Linked DNA regions of Homo sapiens: region 2 is linked to region 1. The links come from fine-mapping of genetic effects on gene expression. A gene starts in region 1. The other region holds a variant in brackets. All regions are shown on one strand. Distances are between the middles of the regions.

Region 1 (5,000 bases):
GACTTTGCCATCCTCCCGCTGGTATCGCACCAGTACTGCCCAGGAGGGGAGATCAGTATGGGCGCTATCCCCCACCCCCTGCCTCCCAGCTGAGCCTTGGATCAACTCTGCTAGATACCACATCTCTAGGGCCCCTATCCCTAATTCTACTATGTGGCTCTCAACACCTTGTATTTAATAGGTACACAATAAATGTTTTTGAAATTGCTTTAGAGGCCAGGCACGGTGGCTCACACCTGTAATCCCAGCACTTTAGAAGGCCAAGGTGGGCAGATCACTTGAGGTCAGAAGTTCGAGAACAGCCTGGTCAACATGGCGAAACCCTGTTTCTACTAAAAATACAAAAGTTAGCCAGGCATGGTGGTGGGCACCTGTAGTCCCAGCTACTCAGGAGGCTGAGATAGGAGAATTGCTTGAACCCAGGAGGCAGAGGTTGCAGTGAGCTGAGATTGTACCACTGCACTCCAGCCTAGGTGACAAAGCAAGACTCCATTTAAAAAAATAATTGGTTTAGAGACAAATACTTTCTTAGTCTTCATTGGTATCAGATGACTGTATCCTCTCCTAGGGTGACAGCTGGTTTTGTGGCCACTGACCTGTTCCAGGGATCTGAAAGACCTTTCTGTATCACCGCTGAGGCACAGAGACATGCCTCACCCTCCTTCCAGGCATCCCCAAGTACAACCTCCCATCCCTATAAATATCAGGACTCAAGCCTCACCCTATTGTTTGGTACATGGGCTCCTAAAGCACCTTATAAGCACCCCATACCAGGTGCCCCTGATGTCTGGGCACAGCCTGATGGGACCTTGGTCCCTAGTGGAGGCCAAGGAGAATGAGGAAGCACTTGGGAAGTAGGGATGAGGGAGAGTGCTTAAGGAGGTCACCATTGCAAGAAAGGAGATGCCCACCAGTCACCTTTGTTGATCTTGCCTACAACAGAGGCCTCCAGCCATCGAGTGTTGTCTTGGCGAGAATAGAGGCCAAAGAGGACACCACCCTGCTTGGGGGGCAGGCGGAAGGTGGATAAGAGGTAGATGTCCCCAGCAGTGAGCAAGGCTGTCCGGATCTTCTCTGCCACAGCTACCATCTGCCGAGACTCGCCCACAGTCAGCAGGTCAATTACTGGTCAGGCAGGGGTTATCAAGGTTAGAGAATGGGATCAAATGCTAAGGTATGCCCTCCCCCGAGCCCACATCACCCCCTACCCCCACCACCAGGCAGCGTTAGTCACCTCAAAATTCAACCCTTGGCTGGGCATGGTGGCTCGCACCTGTAATCCCAACACCTTGGGAGGTTGAGGCAGGTGGATCGCCTAAGGTCAGGAGTTCGAGACCAGCCTGGCCAACACGGTGAAACCCCGTGTCTACTAAAAATACAAAAACAACAACAAAAAAGAAAAAAAAACCACCTAGCCGGGCGTGGTGGCGGGCACCTGTAATCCCAGCTACTCAGGAGGCTGAGGCAGGAGACTCGCTTGAACCTGAGAGGTGGAGGTTGCAGTGAGCCGAGATCGCGCCATTGCACTCCAGCCTGGGCAACAAGAGTGAAACTCCATCTCAAAAAGACAAAACGAAAACAAAAAAAAACCTCAACCCTTGTTGCTCTCAGAGGACAGAGGCACTGTGCCTTCCTTTCCCCATTATTGCCTATTACTACCTTCCAGGAACCTGCAGGTTTGAGACTCACTTGGAAACACAGAAACAGCACCCCACAAATTTGAGATGCCCCCACCAGGTGGCGCAAAGGAGATGCTGTGCTGATCCCCCACAGGAGTGGCACCTGGTGTCCACAACGTAGAAATGGAAGGCAGCTTCTCTTTCCACTCCTGGGTTTGGCTCGTTCCACACCCTAGTTCCCCTCCTCCCATCCTAGGGGCGCAGCACACTCGCTCTGGATAAGAACAGCTGCCCACTGAGGACTCTAACCCTCCCACCATCTGGGCTATCTCCCACGGGAATGTAGGACCCAGCTCCTCTGCCTCCTGTGTCCTGGCCAATCTGTGGTTTTCCCTCCAGCCAGTAAAGAATCTATGCCTGTGTCATCTGCTCCAGCTACCTCTCCCACATCCATCGGCCCATCCCACCACCAGACCTCCGGGAGAGCCCAGGCTTCTTGGTCCCCACCCCCGCCCTGTCCTTGGGCAGCCAGGAGCCCAGGGGGACGAAGCCCAGGGACCTACAGTACGCCCACCTTCAGGCTGCTCTCCCAGACCCTAGGGTGCCTACAGATGCTCAGGAACCACCCCAGCCAGGCAGCCTGAGCATCCAGTTCCTGAGTCCTCTGCCCTGGCCTCATGCCTGACCCTGTCCTGTTCCAGCTCCCCCACTACTCTCCGGTGCCCACTCCTCTCCACCAGGCCATAATTTCACCAACTCTAGGCAGTCTTAAGTTTTCCTCTGGCTCAATTTCTGGACTCTTCCCCTCTCCCCTTGCCCACATGTTCTCTGCTACTTGGGCTGAGGGCAAATGGGGAAGAAGCAGAGAGCGGTCTAAGAGGATGGAGACAGGCTTACCCTGCAGATCCTGACTGGCAGATGTGAAAAAGCAAAGGAGGAGAAGAGCCAGGGCCCCCCGAAGTTCCTGCGTCTCCATGCCTCTCAGCCGGCTCACTACCCCTGGCAGGCAGGCAGCTGGGAGGGGAAAAGGCTAGGCGGAGAGAGCAGGAGCCGGGGGGCGGAGGGACAGAATTGGAGGGGGGGCCAGCAGGCGGGTGAGGGGGGGCTGAAACAAAGAGCTGCCAATCACCCTGGAGGCATCATCAGCTCTGGGAACCAGGGGCACTGGGAAAGAATCCTGGAGGCCTCCCTGCTTTCTACCTCTCCCTAATGATCCTCCCCCAGGTGCCTCCCTCTCCGCAGTCATCATTGTTGGGGGTCTCGGCACACAGCGCTACCGAATGCCACTGTTTTCTGGAAGCCACGATTGTGGAAGGCAAGAACCCCTGGCAGGGGCAGTGCTAGACAGTGGGCATTATTCCACAGCTGGCAGGAAAGGATGCCAAGGGAGTGGCCGCAACTAGCTTGCTATAGTGCCCAGGGATGCCCACATGGCATGAATTTTGCTGTTCTGGCGGAGCAAGTGCTCTTTATTAGGGTGGGGGGTCCCCTGACAAGTGCCTGTTTCTCCATTTTCCCTCATTCGTAGGAAAGCTTGGGAGTCTGGAAGCGTCTGACGGGAACTGAAGGGAGAATCTAAAGCAGTGGTCAGTGAGGTCAGAGTGAAGAAACCAAAAAAGAGGAAAGGGACACCAGGGACAGGCGCAGAAGACCAGGGGTACAGGCGAGGAGCCAAGGACCAGACTGTGGAACACTGTGGGTACTAGCGGACGGGCCGTGACCCGGATGAAGCAGAGGGGCGCCTGAGTTCCCGTCACCTAAGCGACAGCCTGCGAGCCTCTCTTCCCCTCCCCCACCCAAGCCCCAGCCCGGCCTCCGCTCCGGCCGCCGCCACCGCCCCTGTTTTGTTTCCATGGCGACAGGCGGCGCAGGGCCCGCTCCAAACATAACGCGCTGTGGAAAACATGCTGCTCGGGGGACCCCCCCGCAGTCCCCGCTCGGGGACGAGCCCCAAGGGGCCCTGGAGCAGTACAGGCCACGTGCAGTTTGGCAAGAGCCCCCAGACCTGGCCCAGGCGCACAAGACCCCGCTCTCCAGAGCCTGCCGCGCCTTCAGGGGTTCGGGGCTCCACTTGGACGAGGCGCCGTGACTCTCCGAGGCGCGCCGGGCCGACAGCGCTGTCCCGCTACGTGGGCCACCTCTGGATGGGCCGGCGGCCGCCCTCCCCCGAGGCCCGCGGCCCAGTCCCCCGCAGTTCAGCTGCCAGTCGGGCCAGAAGAAGCCTCGCCTCCCCGGGGATCTCCCCAGGCCCCCTGACCGCAACGATCGGAGGGGCGGTGGCGGGGGGCGGGCCCAGGCAGGGGAGGGCAGAAGCACACAAGGAAGTGTTTCCGGGACAGAGGGTGGGCAAGATGGCGGCGCCCATGGAGCTGTTCTGCTGGTCAGGGGGCTGGGGGCTGCCGTCAGTGGACCTGGACAGCCTGGCCGTGCTGGTGAGGGGTGGCGCCGGCGCCCTCTGCTGTGCCCTGATGACTGGGGAGGGGGCCGAACTAGCCAAGCATCCAAACCTTGCCAGGGCTACTCAGCACGGGCGCAGTGGGGGAAACTGAGGCAGTCAAAGAGCGTACGTGGCCGATATGGCCTCAGTGCCCTATGCTGTAGTTTTCTAGGCTTAATGCAGCAATGAAAAGACGCCTGGTTGGGAGTTCAGGTGATGGGTTCTAGTCCTTGCTCATCCATTCACTGGCTGTGTGACCTTGCGGAGATCCTTTCTCTTTGGGCATTTTTTTTCTCCATTCGGAGGTTTACTAGGCTGGACTGTCTCAGGGACCTACTCTAGCTTGGAATTCCTGCCTTCTCCTCAGCCCCCTTCTCCTCTTCCTCCTCACTTAACAGCATTTACTGAGGCTATTGTTTGTTAGACCAAACGACTCACAGCCAGGCTTTGTATAAAGAGCTTAGCAATCAGACTTCCTTTGCTTCATTTATTCATTGACTCCTTGCTTTAAAGAGGATCTATTAGATTTCTTCCAAATATTAAACATTGCCAGGCAAAGATGAATAAAATTTGGTTCCTCCCTTCGAGTTTACAGAAAGGCAGATAGGTAAGCAAATAAATATAATAAAATATTCACATATAAGTTAAAGTAGGAACAGACCACAGATACTGCCAAAGAGAAGGGCATTATCAGTGCTTCCAAGAAGAGGGATACTGGTTAGGAAAAGCTTCTGAGGATAGATGTTCACCAGGTAGATGGCAAGAGAGGAGATAGAGGAAAGGATTTTCCTGGCTGTCCTGTAATCACAGACATGTCCGGAATCTCTCTGAGCCCTGTGTTGTCCATTTGTAAAATAGAAATGGTAGTGACTCCCCCTTTTTTTTCGAGACTAAGATACTAAGTATAGGGAATGGCACATAAGGTATTCAATAAATGTTATTTC
Region 2 (5,000 bases), 22 kb after region 1:
CTCCGTGAACGTTTGTCACATGTCCGAAGAATGAATGAATTATATACCTTTCTTCCCACTCCAGCCCTCAAAAAGCAAGTGGATACAAAGACTTGAAGATTTTATAATCGCTTCATTAGTAAAATTTGACCATCCTTACCATTAAAAATAATGATAATGATGAAAAAGGCTAAGTGCGAACGCCGGGAGGGGAGAGCTAAAATTCAAAGGGCGAAATATTTATAATGCCTACCGTCGGCGAAGAGAAACAGCAGCCCCAACCGAAGGCAAAAGGAAATCCCACCGCAGCCTCCAAAGGCGCGTGGGCGGGACTGGAGAATGGGGCCCTGCGCACTAGGCGCGGAAGTCAAGAAGCAGCCCCACCACCCGTGCCGCGAGAAAAGCAGCCCTGGGGAGGCGGGGCGGGGCCTCACTTGGAAAAGAGACGGTCACTCATCCAGAGGCGGGACTCAGAGCCCCTCCACAAGTCTCATTGGTCCATTTGAAGACGGACAACTCTCCCTGACCATCCGTAGCACAGACGGGGCGCAAGCGTATTGGAAAGGGAGCGGGTGCCAGACGCGAGAACTACGCATGCGTCTCAGCGCTTTCCCGCCAGCACACCCTTAGTGGGTGGGGGGGGGCGATTGAATTCCCACAGTGAGTCCAGCCCACCGAAGCTGAGAGGATTCCTAACCTTCCTCTTCAGAGAGCCTCAGGTTAGGGAACGTCCAGTGCCCAAAAGCTGCCCTGTGGGAATCCCATTGTCCACCGCCTCTTACCTAATGTTTCGTTCTGGCCTTGCCCCATCTCTTCCTGAGGCTGGGTTGTTACGATGGTGAATTATTCAAGATGTCTTGCAGCCTGACGCCATCTCTGGGCAGTGCTCCTGCATCCTCCCTGTCTTCCTTGGGAGGGCACCACGTTGCTCTTACAAGCACAGGGTCCTGAAACTGTTTACAAGGCCCCACTCTGCCACGTTAGTATCTTAACGAGTGTTTGTTGAGGAAGCACTGTGTGTTAGACCCAGTGCAATGAGCAAGTCCCTGATCTTGTGACCTTACATTCTACAGGACGACACAAACGTATAAACAAAAAATAATTTTAGATAGTGATACATGCTTAAAACATGGCTATGTGGCCGGGAGCAGTGGCTCACGCCTGTAAATCCAACATTGTGGGAGGCTGAGGCAGGTGGATCACTTGAGGTCAAGGAGTTCGAGACCAGCCTGGCTAACATGGCAAAACCCCGTCTCTACTGAAAATACAAAACTTAGTCAGGCGTGATGGCAGACACCTGTAATCCCAGCTACTCGGGAAGCTGAGGCAGGAGAATCGCTTGAACGCAGGAGATGGAAGTTTGCAGTGAGCCCAGATCACACCACTGCACTCCAGCCTGGGTGAGAGAGCCAGACTGTATCTCAAAAAAAAATAAAATAAAATAAAATAAAGCTATGTGATAGAATGACTGCGATGGGGATTAGGTCCTCACTGAAATGGTGAGAGTGGAGTTAAAACCTGAAATTAGGTGACAGCACCAGATATATCTGCCCGAGGGTTTCGTGCTTGGAAAATAGCAGGTGCAAACGTCCTTGTGCTGTGAGGAAATTTGGCTGGAACAGAAGGTGGGCCAGATTGTAGCTGACCATAGTCTCTGAGAGCTTGGAGATGATTCTAAATACAATGGGAAGCCATTAAATTGAGGCAGAGCCTTGATGTGACGTGCTTTATCATCATTTTGCTGAGTGGAGAATGGATTGCTGGGAAAAGTGAAAGATTGATTCAGAGGTTGTGGAGAGAGGGTGGCTGGAACTAGGTAGCTGGGGAGGTGGTGGGACGTGGATGAATTCAAGATAGGATTGGTTGTGTTGGATATGGGAAAAGAAGTCACCATGGTTCCTGGGCTTTTGGAATGTGCAAATGGGTAATGGAGGTGCCATTGAGATGGGAACAGTGGAAAAATAACCGGTGCTGGGGTGGGAATGAAGAGCTCAGTTGTGTGGCCGGGCGCAGTGACTCACGCCTGTAATTCCAGCACTTTGGGAGGCCGAGGCAGGGGGATCACCTGAGGTCAGGATTTGCAGACCAGCCTGGTCAATATGGCAACACCCTGTCTCTACTAAAAATACAAAAACATTAGCCGGGTAGCGGGGCCTATAATCCCATCTACTCGGGAGGCTGAGGCAGGAGAATCGCTTGAACCCTGGAGGCAGAGGTTGCAGTGAGCCAAGATCTCGCCATTGCACTCCAGCCTGGGCAACAAGAGCAAAACTCTGCCTAAAAAAAAAAAAGAGTTCAGTTAGTTCAGTTGTGGCCATGTTGAATTTGAAATACTCATTAGACATCCAACCAGATATGCTGAGTTGGATGGCGCTCAAGAGAGGTCAAGGCTGGA[C/G]TTATGCATTAACACATAGAAAGATGGTACTTAAAGCCATGGACGTTAGTAGTAGGGCCACCTACAGAAAGAGTGGAAGTAGAAAAGAGGGCTTACGGTGGGCAATGTGGTTCACGCCTCTAATCCCAGCACTTTGGAAGGTCAAGGCAGGCACATCATTTGAGGTCAGGAGTTTGAGACCATCCTGGACAACATGGTGAAACCCCGTCTCTACTAAAAATACAAAAACTAGCCGGGTGTGGTGGCATGCACCTGTAGTCCCAGCTACTCAGGAGGCTGAGGCAGGAGAATCGCTTGAACCCAAGAGGCGGAGGTTGCAATGAGCCAAGATTGCACTGTTACACTCCAACCTGGGTGACAGAGCAAGACTCCATTTAAAAAAAAAAAAAATTGATGGCCGGGTGCAGTGGCTCATGCCTGTAATCCCAGCACTTTGGGAGGCCGACGCAGGCAGATCACGAGGTCAGCAGATCGAGACCATCCTGGCTAACAAGGTGAAAACCTGTCTCAACTAAAAATACAGAAAATTAGCCAGGCATGGTGACAGGCACCTGTAGTCCCAGCCACTCAGGAGGCTGAGGCAGGAGAATCGCTTGAACCTGGGAGGCGGGGGTTGCAATGAGCCGAGATCGCACCATGCACTCCAGCCTGGCAAAAGAGCAAGACTCCATCTCAAAAAAATAAATAAAATAAAATAAAAATGACGGCTGGGAGCAGTGGCTCACGCCTGTAATCCCAGCATTTTGGGAGGCTGAGGTGGGCAGATCACGAGGTCAGGAGATCGAGACCATCCTGGCTAACATGGTGATACCCTGTCTCTGTTAAAAATACAGAAAATTAGCCAGGCATGGTGGCAGGCACCTGTAGTCCCAGCTACTCGGGAGGCTGAGGCAGGAGAATAGCATGAACCTGGGAGGCAGAGCTTGCAGTGAGCCGAGATCGTGCAACTGCACTCCAGCCCGGGCAACAGAGCAAGACTCCGTCTCAAAAAAATATATAAAAAATAAAAGAAAAGAAAAAAAACAAAAACAAAGAAGGCTTACGTGAGACCCTTGGGGCCCTCTACTGTTAACCAGTTCAGGAGAGGTGTAAAAGTTTGTAAAGGATAACCAGAGCACAAAGTAGAAGAGCAATGTCCTCAAAGGGAAAAATTCAAGAAGATGCTGATTATGGAGATTAATTGCTGCTTCAAGGTCAAGTGAAATGCAGGCAGAGAAATGGTCACTGGGTCTGACACCACTTTTGGTCACTCAAATTTTGGTCAGAGCAGTGGCTGAAGAAACACAGGGGAAGGAGTCTGATGGGGGTGGGTGATAAGAGAATGGATGTTTAAGTGTGGAGGGAAGAAAAAGAAAACCTATTGCTATGAAAAGGAGCAGAGATAGAATTCGTGGTTGGAAAGTGTGTCTTGAAAGTTTCTTTTTTCTTAAAAGTTTCTTGTGCACCATATAGCACAAGATCAGCAACCCCTGGCAGAGCCCTTCAGGTACCCAGTATCCCTTGGGGGTGAGGAAGGGTGTGTACAAGAGGAGAAGCAGGAGATAGGCAGGAATGTGTTGCAACTACGTATGGATAGGCAGCTAAGGTCCTGGTTGGTATACTTTTCTCTCAGTATCAGGAACCCTGCCTGCCCTTTGGACCAGTCATGGAGAGGTCACCTCAGTACCACACAAGATCATCACCCACCTTCAAAAAGAGGTGGGTGATTTGGATAGAGGGGGCTGCCAGTGAGAGAAGTTCAGTCAATTCCGTACAATACACATTTATTGAGCACTAGATATATGCCATGCTAGATGCAGGTGACCCAGAGCATCAAGGAGCAATAGTCTGGTGGCAGAGACACACACAATGTCACTGTGATGTATTAAAGCAGTCGGCAAGAGATGCAGCTCAGGGCACTGTGGGGATATCCAGAGGCACGGTACCTTCTGCCTGTCAGTCAGGGAGGGAGAGGAGCACAGGCTGAAGGAGACTGGAAGACAGCAGTTGGCCTCTGATAGTGGGACTGGAGAGAGATTTCTAAGGGCCACTTCTTGTTTTCAGGGACTAGGTTGGGCTAGATATGGGGCTCAGGATGGACAAGGCTTAGAGCCAGGTTGGAGAAGATGAAAGAGCATTACTAGAGGAGTGGGGAGGCCTAGGCTATGCTCTTTACTCTGCCATTGACTGCGTGATCTTGGGCAGGCCATGTAACCTCTCAGGGCTGTGCACTCCCTTATTTGTAAAACTAGAGGGCTGGGCCAGCATGTTTTCCAAGGGTTCTTCTAGCATTGACGGTCAGGTTCCAAGAGGGAACACAGTGTCAGAAGTGGGACACTCTTCCTAATTTCTAATTTCCCAAAGGTTAAGGACCTGGGGAATTAATTGAGAGGCCTGGAAAGAGGATCCAGATAAAAGCCTAAGTTCCTGGCAAGGCCAGGGCCACTGCCCTGATTGCTTAGGTGTGAACAGAGCTTTTTGTTTCCGAAGTATTCTAAATTATTTCCTAACACAGGGGCATTCAGAGAAAGAGATTCTTACCCCCATTCCACAGGGGAGAAACTGAGGCTTAGGGAGATTTAAGGATCATGCTGAAGAGGTTATCTGGGGACAAAGCTTACTCAGGATGTGGTGGGGGATGCTGAGG

What was found. PIP is the estimated chance that this variant, and not a neighbour inherited with it, causes the effect. A credible set is the group of variants that fine-mapping cannot tell apart.
Region 2: its variant is the best candidate, but not a certain one, in a credible set for the expression of THBS3 in whole blood (INTERVAL, PIP 0.90).

The regions. Positions count from the first base shown.
Region 1 is chr1:155,205,282-155,210,281 of GRCh38, forward strand. It overlaps THBS3 (thrombospondin 3), which reads right to left and starts at 2,616. Exons shown (of 23, transcript NM_007112.5): 1 at 2,517-2,616; 2 at 919-1,125; 3 at 1-35. The coding sequence starts at 2,595. It overlaps MTX1 (metaxin 1), which reads left to right and starts at 3,414. Exons shown (of 8, transcript NM_002455.5): 1 at 3,414-4,051. The coding sequence starts at 3,524. It overlaps THBS3-AS1 (THBS3 antisense RNA 1), which reads left to right. Exons shown (of 6, transcript NR_183238.1): 6 at 1-208. RefSeq lists an enhancer at 1,617-2,400 and a silencer at 3,764-3,963.
Region 2 is chr1:155,227,150-155,232,149 of GRCh38, forward strand. It overlaps the pseudogene GBA1LP and the pseudogene MTX1LP. Among named protein-coding and RNA genes, the nearest start is that of GBA1, 12 kb to the right of the region's middle. RefSeq lists an enhancer at 1-364 and a silencer at 270-319. The variant C/G (reference allele first, on the strand shown) is at 2,375.